2 separate regions of the Homo sapiens genome follow, and region 2 is linked to region 1. The links come from fine-mapping of genetic effects on gene expression. A gene starts in region 1. The other region holds a variant in brackets. All regions are shown on one strand. Distances are from middle to middle. Region 1 holds the start of SMARCC1 (SWI/SNF related BAF chromatin remodeling complex subunit C1). Region 2 holds the start of LOC124906234 (a long non-coding RNA gene).

Evidence for each region.
Region 2: its variant is fine-mapped to the expression of SMARCC1 in lung (TOPMed, PIP 0.94).

Annotation. Positions count from the first base shown.
Region 1 is chr3:47,778,681-47,784,057 of GRCh38, reverse strand. SMARCC1 (SWI/SNF related BAF chromatin remodeling complex subunit C1) reads left to right here and starts at 2,165. Exons shown (of 28, transcript NM_003074.4): 1 at 2,165-2,455. The coding sequence starts at 2,261. RefSeq lists silencers at 1,422-1,481, 1,592-1,641, 2,052-2,271, 2,452-2,691 and an enhancer at 1,925-2,219.
Region 2 is chr3:47,596,491-47,601,867 of GRCh38, reverse strand. All of the region lies in intron 26 of SMARCC1 (SWI/SNF related BAF chromatin remodeling complex subunit C1), which reads left to right. LOC124906234 (a long non-coding RNA gene) reads right to left here and starts at 1,645. Exons shown (of 3, transcript XR_007095902.1): 1 at 1,585-1,645. The variant A/G (reference allele first, on the strand shown) is at 2,347.

The DNA of each region.
Region 1 (5,377 bases):
TCAATGTAACAGGAGAAATGAAATTATGCACCACCTGATAGAATGCAATGCAAAGAACACAAAGATACAAACATCAGACAAACTTAAATTGAGGGTCATTCTACAAAATAAATGCCTTGTAATCTTCATAGGTATCAATGTTGTTAAGGTTTAAGGACTAAGGAACTGTTCCATATTGAAGGAGATGAAACTTTATTAAATGCAAAGTGTGATTTTGAACTGGAAACTTTTGCTATAAAGGACTTCATGGTGCAATAGGAAAAACCTGAATGGGGTCTGGGGATGGCATCAGTGTTAATTTCCTGGTATAAATGATTGTATTGTGATTATGTAAGAGAATATATAGACTATACTTGTCTGTAGAAAATACACATTAAACTTTTTGATAGTGATGGGTATTATGTCAGCAACTTACTCTTAGATGATTCAGGAAAAGTTCTTTGTATTATATTTGCAACTTTTCTGTTAAATCTGAGAAAGTTTCAAATTAAAAACTTTTTTTTTCAGACGAGTTTGGCTCTGTCGCCTAGGCTGGAGTGCAGTGGCGTGATCTCAGCTCACTGCGATCTCCACCTCCTCCTGGGTTCAAGCAATTCTCCTGCCTCAGCCTCCCGAGTAGCTGGGATTACAGGCATGCACCACCACACCTGGCCAATTTTTGTAGTTTTAGTAGAGACGGGGTTTCACCATGTTGGCCAGGGTGGTCTGGAACTCCTGACCTCGTGATCAGTCTGCCTTGGCCTCCCAAAGTGTTGGGATTACAGGCGTGAGCTATCTCGCCTGGCCCTCTTGATCACATTCTATTAACTTTTTTATTTAATATATTTTACTGTCCGTGACACAGCCCTCAGGAGATCCTGAAAACATGTACACACCCTCATTTTTAAAAGATCTCAGAAACTTACCAGCAGTTAGTCACGTTCTCACAAGCAATTAGTTACTTGCTTCTCTGCGATCATATAGCATTATGTTCACAACTCCATTATGGCCAGTCATACTTTTTATGTTTCTGAAACAGGGTTTCGCTCTGTCGCCCAAGCTGAAGTGTAGTGAGTGGCGCGATTATAGCTCACTGCAGCCTCCATCTCCCCAGCTCAAGGGATCCTCCCACCTCAGCCCTCCAAGAGGCTAGGACCACAGGCTTGCAACACAACGCTGGCTGATTTTTGTATTTTTTGTAGAGACGGGGATGGGTGTGGTGGTCTAGAGCTCCTGGGCTCAATTGATCCTCCCGCCTCAGCCTCCCAAAGTGCTCCGCACCCGGCCAATATACCTTGTTAATAATTTAAAAATTTTCGGCTTCTATGTGGGCCATTCATTAACTCATCAAGTATTTACTGTACATCTGTTCCTTGTCTCAGGTGTTCAGGATACACCTGTGAACAAGTTAAGATTAGGTTCTCATGTAATTTATGTGGAAGGTAAATGAGAAACTAGAAACGCCGGGTCGTGGTGAGCGCTATGCAGAAAGTGTATGGGTGTGAACAGTTGTTCAAGATTGTTAAGATCTGACAACTACTTTCTGAAGTCCTTTGAAGCAGTGAATCTGAACGCGTCTCGTAAGTGCAAATCAGAAGGGAAGACCTGCTGAGGTCTCGAAAGAGCCAGTGCAAGGGCCCCTGGGGCAGGAATGAGCCGCTGTGGCTGGACCCCTGAGGGAGTGGAAGGTCTGTGAAGCCGAAAAGCCTAGGCGTGGGAGTCCCAGATGGCTGTTCACAAATGCCGCCGGGCCGCTGGGGGTGGAGGGCCTGAGGGAAAGCGGGGCCCGGCGCAGTCCCAGTCCGGGTGCAGGGCCCTCGGCCAGCACTCGATACCCTAGACAGGCTTTCCCTTGGGCATTTCTCGCACCAGGCCTTTTCCCTCCAGCGGAGGCGGGCTATGACACATAACCCACCTGCGGTTGTTGACCGCATAATGATTCGACGTCGGTAGCGAGGGAAGAGCAAGGCTCAAAAACCGGCGCTCACTAGGGCAGAATGCAGCCTACGGAGGATGGCGGAAGAGGCGGCTGAGGCCGCAGGACGTGCTATTCCAAGGCACGGCCGCACGAGTGCTACGCATGCGCGTGCGCTGGCTCGCGTCAGATACAGTGCCAGTTCCCAGATGGGGCGGGGCCGGGCGTCCGCGCCGGAAGAGGGTTGGCTGGGCGGGGCCGGGAAGCGGCAGTGGCGGCTACGCGCGCGGGGGTGCGCGCGGGAACGACCGGGAAACACCGCGAGGGCCGGGGTGGGCCAGGCTGTGGGGACGACGGGCTGCGACGATGGCCGCAGCGGCGGGCGGCGGCGGGCCGGGGACAGCGGTAGGCGCCACGGGCTCGGGGATTGCGGCGGCAGCCGCAGGCCTAGCTGTTTATCGACGGAAGGATGGGGGCCCGGCCACCAAGTTTTGGGAGAGCCCGGAGACGGTGTCCCAGCTGGATTCGGTGCGGGTCTGGCTGGGCAAGCACTACAAGAAGGTGGGTTCGCGCGCCCGTGGGGGCCGGGAGACCACGCGACCGGGGCCGGAGGCGGCAGCTGGCCTCGCGGGCCTCGGGCCGCCCCTCCCCCCCGCACGCCACGAGGGACAACAAAGGCAGGCGCCGGGCCCGCCACGCCCCCGCCGCCCGCTCTGGGCGCCCGCGATCCCGGGGCCTGACTGGGGTTCGGGGCTCTCTCCTCTGAGCCTACGCACCCATGGTGAAAGCCCCTGCTCAGTCTCGTGTGCCAGAGCAGGTCGAGCTCAGCCACTAAGCGAGTGTGACTCTCTCTCTTTTGTCAGCTGCCTTAGGTGTGTGAACAATGATCCCTAAAGACCGAGCAAGCGTGGTAAAAGCAGCTTCAAGTTTTGTTTAGAGCGTATTCAAAGTCTCGAGGGGGTTTGCTACCTGTTGTTGAATTGCTAAACGACTGGGATGATTGTATTCGTTAATTAATAACAGGCAATATGAATTCTAGGATGGATGAGAACTATTAACGACGGTTCTACCTCATCGTGCTTCTGGTTCTGTGTGGCGTGAGAGTTGATGGTCGCTTGTACGTAAAGTGTTCTAAAGGGAGGCCTTCCCCAAGAACCCAGTTTTTATTAGAGCACTTTTCTTGTGTCACCTTTATTTTCTTCGTAGTGTTTACCACATTTTGAAATTATTCATTTACTGATTTCTCCTACCTTTGGAACGGAAGTTCCGCCGAGTCAGTAGTTTTCAAAGTTTTGACTTAATCCTTTGTTTATAACAAATGTTTTTTTTTTTTCCAACTTCCCTTTTGTGTAAATATTCAGGAGGACTCCCTTAAAGGGTGTAATGAAGCAGGTAGCCGAAAAGGCTCCCCAGCCTCTGAAGTTTTCCTATCACCCTCTTTAGTTCTGTACTTTCTCCTATTGAGAATCATAGCACTGAAGCAAGGGCTTTGTTCACTGCAGTGTATCCGGGAACGTGGCTGATACTTATTGCCTTACCCTTAGTGGCTGCTTAGTAAATATTTGTTGAATGAATGAAAACATAAACTAGTTTAGGAACCTATTTTTTTGGCCTCAGCAGCTCAGTGAAGCCTGTCAGTGTTTGGCAGTTATTAGGCATGGGCAGGGATCTTGGGTTCCTTTGGCATTACACGTGGTACATTCAGAAATGACCATTTCTGGCCGGGCGCGGCTTGGAAGGCCGGGCGGGTGGATCACCTGAGGTCAGGAGTTCGAGACTAGCCTGACCAACATGGTGAAACCCCGTCTTTCCAAAAAATACAAAATTAGTCGGGTGTGGCAGCACATGCCTGTAATCCCAGCTACTCGGGAGGCTGAGGCAGGAGAATCTCTTGAACCCAGGAGGCAGAAGCTGCAGTGAGCCGAGATTGCACCATTGCACTCCAGCCTAGGTAATAAAGTAAGACTGTCTCCAAAAAAAAAAAAAAAAAAAAAACAAAAAAAAACCAAAGACCCAGAAATGATCATTTCTTTCTTTCTTGTTTTTGAAGGTCAGCTAGAAAAATTACATTTCTTATCTGAAGTTTGAGGAAGTGAGAGACAGTAATTATATTTTTAGGTGTCTGGACTTTTCCTCCTCTGAAATTACATTTAGACTGTAGATTTTTAGTAATATTGCCCTTTCTTACACAGTGATAAATTGGTCACTTTTTAAATGTAAGTAATAGAGCTTCCAGAAGTGGCTAATGGAATTGAATATGTTATGAAAATATTGGTTAATTCTTCTTTATTACATTCCTTTTAGCCAATGCTTTGGGTCTTAAATTCAGTGAAGCTTTAACAAAGAAAAATAATCTACAGGCATATTCCTTTGAATAATATCAAGGAAGAGAGTAGAAAAAGGCAAATTTCAGTAATTTCTACCTCTCCGCACTGTTCAGTGTGCATCAGTTTGGGATCAACTACAAGAAGCTTTAGACATGGATAATCCTTCGATATTTGTTTGGGTGGGTAGGGAAGTGGCTACAAAGCAGTTTGAGGAATTGCCCAGCAGTATTGAGACCACTAGGCTAATGTTGATTCACTATCCCTGAGACTTTATAGACAAAGTTACCTTTGACTTCTCAGGACTTTGTAAAGCCAGAGTGTATTTCTAGGGTCTACTGAGATTGAGAAACGTATATACCCTAGGCCTGACAGCCAGAATCTTTTCAGTCTCTGGGTGTTAGCGTTGAAGTGGTGAAAATATTATCACAAAGTTCTTTGCTTCTTTTCTACACAGTGCATTTCTATTTGGTGTACGCATTGGTTTTAACTAACCGTTTCTAGTGCATTTAATACTGCATTTTCAGAGCAGACAACAGTTTCAGTCTCAGTAAACATGATTTTGTTAGTGTCATTTTTTATTTATTTTTATTTTACTTTATTTTTTTGAGACAGGGTCTTTCTGTGTTGCCCAGGCTGGAGTACAGTGGCGTGATCATAGCTCACTGCAACCTCAAACTCTTGCATTCAGCTCATGCATTCAGTGAACAACTGAGCATTTACCATGTGCCGGGTACTTAAAGTATAACTCACTTAAAGTCCTCATAGCAGTCCTAAATGATAGATATTATTTACCTTCTTTTTCAAATGGAAGATACCTGAGACTTCATTTAGGAATTTTCTTTTTTTTTTGAGACAGGGTCTTTCTGTGTTGCCCAGGCTGGAGTGCAGTGGTGAGATCATAGCACACTGCAGCCTCAACCTCCTGGGCTCAGGTGATTCTCCCACCTCAGCCTCCTGAGTACCTGGGACTACAGGCACGAACCACCACACCTGGTTAATTTTTTGTATTATCAGTAGAGGCAGGGTTTTGCAGTGTTGCCCAGGCTGGTCTCGAACTCCTGGGCTCTCTGCCTGCCTCAGCCTCCCAAAGTGCAGGGCTTACAAGTGTGAGCCACCACACTTGGCCCACACTGACTCTTACTTGAAATATTTTGAG
Region 2 (5,377 bases), 180 kb after region 1:
ATTAGCCGGGTGTGGTGGCAGGCAACTGTAATCCTAGCTACTCAGGAGGCTGAGGCAGGAGAATCGCTTGAACCCAGGAGGCAGAGGTTGCAGTGAGCCGAGTTCACACCACTGCACCACTCCAGCCTGGGCGACAAGAGTGAGACTCCATCTCAAAAAAAAAAAAAAAGAAAAAAAAAGCCGTAGCCCATCACATCAGCCAAGATTTTATTATCTGCGGTGCCTTTGGTCCTACTTACATGCTACTTTCCGGAGTAGCCATGCTACTTTCCGGAGTAGCAGGTTACCCTCACAAAGAGAACAGTGAGGGCCCAGTCTTCAACAAAGAGAGTCTGTCACAGGCATCCCCAGGAAGCTGCTGTGGGGAAGGCACAGTCTCTGAGGAGCCTGGGCTTCCCCTCACTTGGCCCTGATTTTGTTATTTCCATTCTCCAGGAGACTCAGCCAGAGGATGTGCTATAGACAGTTAGAAATGGATTGATGAAATGTGCTCAAGACTGGAAATTCACAGGTTCCCTTTCCTAGATTCACTTTCTTTTCCTACCCTCCTTTCCCAACCCAAAGTATAAAATTAAGGTCCTTTACTAATATTCCATTAAGTGTCATGAGTGTAATGCTTTAGTAAAAGATACAATAAACCTGAGAGAGAATGAGGGATTTTTCTACTAGTTAAACCTAATTTTAGCAAAGCTTTTAATTTTTCAGGCTTCAGATGCCTGCTGTTTAAAAAAAAAAAAGAAAAAAGAAAAGAAAAAAAGCTTGTATGTAGGTCAGACTCCCACCATTCTAAGCTTTTGATACTGCTGTTTTGATGCCATGTCTCTCTCTCTCTCTCTCTCTCTCTCTCTCTCTCTCTCTCTCTCTCTCTCATTTTCTTCCTCTCCCTGTCTGCTGGGAAAAAATACCTGATTTTTTTTTTTTAATGGAAAAGACATACATCCTTTACTTTGTTTGCTAAGGCCTGTTCCTATGCATTTCAGATTTGTGTGGGCCAGATCTCTTAATGTTAGTAAGAATTAATGGAAATGCAGACACTGTTGTTCATTTAAAAGTGGTGAGACCTATATCAGACACCACAAAAACCCATAAAGATGTTTAGACTTCTTAAGGACAAGGGTTGCTTTGTGCGAAATTGATTTTGTCTTCTCCTGAGTCTTCTTAAATTCTACCCCATTTCAGATTTCATCCTTGGAAGTTACCTTTTCTAAGGGGAAAGTTACTCCTTAGAAAGGAAGGTGGGGTAAAGGAAAAGAGAATGGACCTCAGGGTCAGAGAGACCTGGATTTGAATCTCAGCTCAGTCTCTTGTTCATTGTGACTTTGCGCCAAATTACATAGCTTCTCTGAGGCTTAGTTTCCTTATCTCAAAACTAGGCCCTTACCATCATCTTACTAACAACCTGGAGACTTCAGAGAGATAACTGTCAAATCACCTGGCACGGTCAACCCTTACTCAACCTTATTCTTACCTCCTTTCCTGTCTTTTCTCTAAACCCACTGCCCCAGGTACACCAGTGCTGAGTTGCTTAGCATCTGACAGAAGGAACCTCTGAATGGCAAAGGGACATCATTCACTCTTAGGTACCTCTTGCTTTCCTGAGAGATGTTTGTTTTTGCAGGGTGCCATAAGCAGAAGTAAATTGCTTTTCCTCTAGACCTTCATTTTTGCTGCCAAGGAGCCGTTGTCCTCTCATACTCAGAACACCTGTATCCCAGTGGCTTTATGACCTTGTTTGTGACAATAGGATAAAGAATCTTTTTCACAAGGCTTTAGAATTTATAATAAATGAAAAGAAAGGTTTTTTTAGCTGTTGGGCTAACAGCCTTGGAAAACCCTAAAGCTGCCCTATTCCAGCTTGTATTCATAAAGATGTAGGGTAATAGGTAAATGGGCCACTGCCACTGAGCAGATAGCTTTGGAAATAGTACTACTGGGCCTAAGAGCAAGAGCCTGCAGGCATTTCCCAGTGCATGATAGGTAGACATCACTTTGTGGGTGTTTGTCAATCAGCCAGTGATGCTCCTCTTTGCCAGATTATTTCTTGAATAGTTGATTTCTCTGCTGGAACATATATTCTGAATTGCGGGTTCAGAAAGTAATTTCTGTCTGGAGCTGAGCATGGGGCAAATAATGGATCAATCAGTTTGGTGACACCAGGGTTTGCATCACGTCGTCTCTGAGCACCTGTTGGACCCCTCTCCCCCAGACCTTGATTGTCAGGGGTGCACACTGGCTGCAAGCACCATCTCTAGAATCAGAGTACCTGTATCAGATCTGAGCTCCCTCATTTACATGCTTTATGACATTGGGCAAGCTACTTAATCTTTGTGTCCTTCCCTTTCTTCC[A/G]CAGGGATAATAGTGCCTGGTTTATAGTGTTGTTATGGGGATTGAATGAGTTAACATTTATAAAACTCTTAAATATAGTGCCTAAGGCATAGCACATGTTTCCTACGTAGTTTCCTGAGGCTGCTATAATAACTTTTTTGAGGCAGAGTTTGCTTTTGTCGCTCAGGCTGGAGTGCAGTGGTGTGATCTCTGCTCACTCTAACCTCTACCTCCCGGGTTCAAGTGATTCTCTTGCCTCAGCTTCCCAAGTAGCTGGTATTACAGGCATGTGCACTCCTGGCTAATTGTTGTATTATTAGTAGAGACAGGGTTTCACCATGTTGGCTAGGCTGGTCTCAAACTCCTGACCTCAGGTGATCCGCCCTCCTCAGCCCCCCAAAGTGCTGGGATTATAGGTGTGAGCCACTGCGCACAGCCTGTCAGAATAACTTAAAACAAGAGAAATGTATTCTTACTCTCTGGGAAATCAGGTCCAATATCCAGCAAAGCCATGCTCCTTCCAAGGTATATAGGGAAGAATCCTGTTCCTTGTCTCTTCCAACTTCCGGTGGCTTGCAGCATTCCTTGTCTTACGGCCACGTCTCTCTTTGCTCCATCTTTACATCACCTTCTTCTCTCTCTGTCTTTGTCTCTGTGTGTGTGTGTGTGTGTGTGTGTGTCTCTCTCTCTCTTTTTTTTTTTTTTTTTTTTTTTTTTGAGACAGAGTCCCTCTGTAGCCCAGGCTGGAGTGCAGTGGCGTGATCTCAGCTCACTGCATCCTCCACCTTCCAGGTTCAAACTATCTTCTCCTCAGCCTCCCAAGTAGCTGTGACCACAGGCATATACCACCACACACAGCTGATTTTTATATTTTTAGTAGAGACGAGGTTTCACTATGTTGGCCAGGCTGGTCTTGATCTGCTGACCTCAAGTAATCCACCCACCTCAGCCTCCCAAAGTACTGGGATTACAGGCATGAGCCACTGCACTGGGCCACATACATAGCTTTAATCAATAAAATCTCAGGAAACCAAAGCTCAGGGATTGAGAGAGAGAGGAGGAGACCTGTGAAGGGCGGCAATATGTTCTTCCTAACTTGTTTAAGGCCTCTGTCCAGGTCGGACTTGGTGGAAGCGAGCAACCTGTACCTGTTGATAAACATGGGCAGCATTATTTCTCCTAGTATATGGCTTCCCTTTGTCACAACAAGTCCATTAGGAGTGTTCTTTCGTCTGCAGGCTAGAATATTGTACTTTTTAGTTTTAAAAGTAGGCCTCCTGTTTCCAGCAGCAACAAAATCATCTCCTGTTGTCCTTCACGCCACCTAGAATACCATTAGAGAATCATTAGTAGTGATTTAGAGTGTGGAAAACAAAGCATTGCTTTTATTAATGGCCTAGCAGGTGATGTGGGGTAGGAAGAGAACAAAAAAAGGGCTTCCAAAAGGGAGCTGGGACAGTACCACCTTAAAAACAAAGGTGCCTCTTTGGCAGTTTGTGGAGAATCTTAGAATAGTAAGTCTCTGTTTGCCACTGCTCTATTTGAAACTCTGGGAGTTCTATACCTTCCCTTCACCGATACCTCTGTATTTCACTATATGGCTGCCCAGCCTACATCTGTTCCCAAAGCAAAAAGTTCTGTGTCCTCTTCACGTCATCCCATCTTCACACTCCCAGCAGTCAGATACCAAACCCAAATTCATTTTCCATCTCAGCTCCATGCTCGCCCTTCCTTCTTGCTCTGTCTCCAATCCCGAGGATGCCTCTTTTTACAGAACCTGTGGCTGGGCACAATAGCTCACACCCATAGTCCCAGCAACTCAGGAGACTGAGTTAGGAGGATCATTGAGCCTAGGAGTTTGAAACCAGCCTGGGCAACATAGCAAGGCCCCATCTCTATAAAAAATTAGCTGGCGTGGGCCGGGCATGGTGGCTCACGCCTGTAATCCCAGCACTTTGGGAGGCCGAGGCAGGCGGATCATGAGGTCAGGAAATCGAGACCATCCTGGCTAACATGGTGAAACCCCATCTCTACTAAAAATACAAAAAATTAGCCGGGCGTGGTGGCGGGTGCCTGTAGTCCTAGCTACTCGGGAGGCTGCGGCAGGAGAATGGCATGAACCCGGGAGGCGGAGATTGCACCACTGCACTCCAGCCTGGGCAACAGAGTGAGACTCCGTCTCAAAAAATTAAAAAATAAAAAATAAAATAAATAAATAAATTAGCTGACGTGGTGGTGCACACCTGTAATCCTAGCTACTCAGGAAGTTGAGGCGGGGGCATCACTTCAACCCAGGAGTTCACTGCTTTAGTGAGCTATGACCATACCACTGTACTCCAGCCTGGGTGACAGAGCAAGACCTCATCTCTCTCTCTTTTTTTTTTTTTTTTTTGAGACTGAGTCTCGCCCTGTCGCCCAGGCTAGAGTGCAGTGACGCAGTCTCAGCTCACTGCAACTCCTGCCTCAGCCTCCTTAGTAGCTGGGATTACAGGTGCGTGCCACCACGCCTGGCTAATTTTTTTATTTTCATCATGTTGGTCAGGCTGGTCTCAAATGCCTGACCTCGTCATCTGCCTGCCTCGGCCTCCCAAAGTGCCGGGATTACAGGCAGGAGCCACCGCCCCTAGCCAAGACCTCATCTCTTTTAAAAAAATAAAATAAAAAAAAAAAGAAGGAACTTGCAGAGTGCCATCTCCATCTCCTATTCCTTTCTGTCTCATCAGCCTGACATTCAGCCCATACTTCTCTGCAAAGGCACTTTTTCTCTGCTCTAGGCACTAACTCCTCTGCATCCCTTCTTAAAGCTTTCTATCCTAGCTGGGCATGGTGGCATGCACCTGTAACCCCAGCTACACAGGAGGCTGAGGCAGGAGAATCACGTGAGCCCAGGAGGTCTAGTCCAGCCTGGGCAACGTAGCAAGACCCCATCTTTTTTCTTCTTCTTCTTCTTATTTATTTATTTATTTTTTTTTTTTTGAGACGGAGTCTGACTCTGTCACCCAGGCTGGAGTGCAGTGGCATGATCTCGGCTCACTGCAACCTCCGCCTCCCA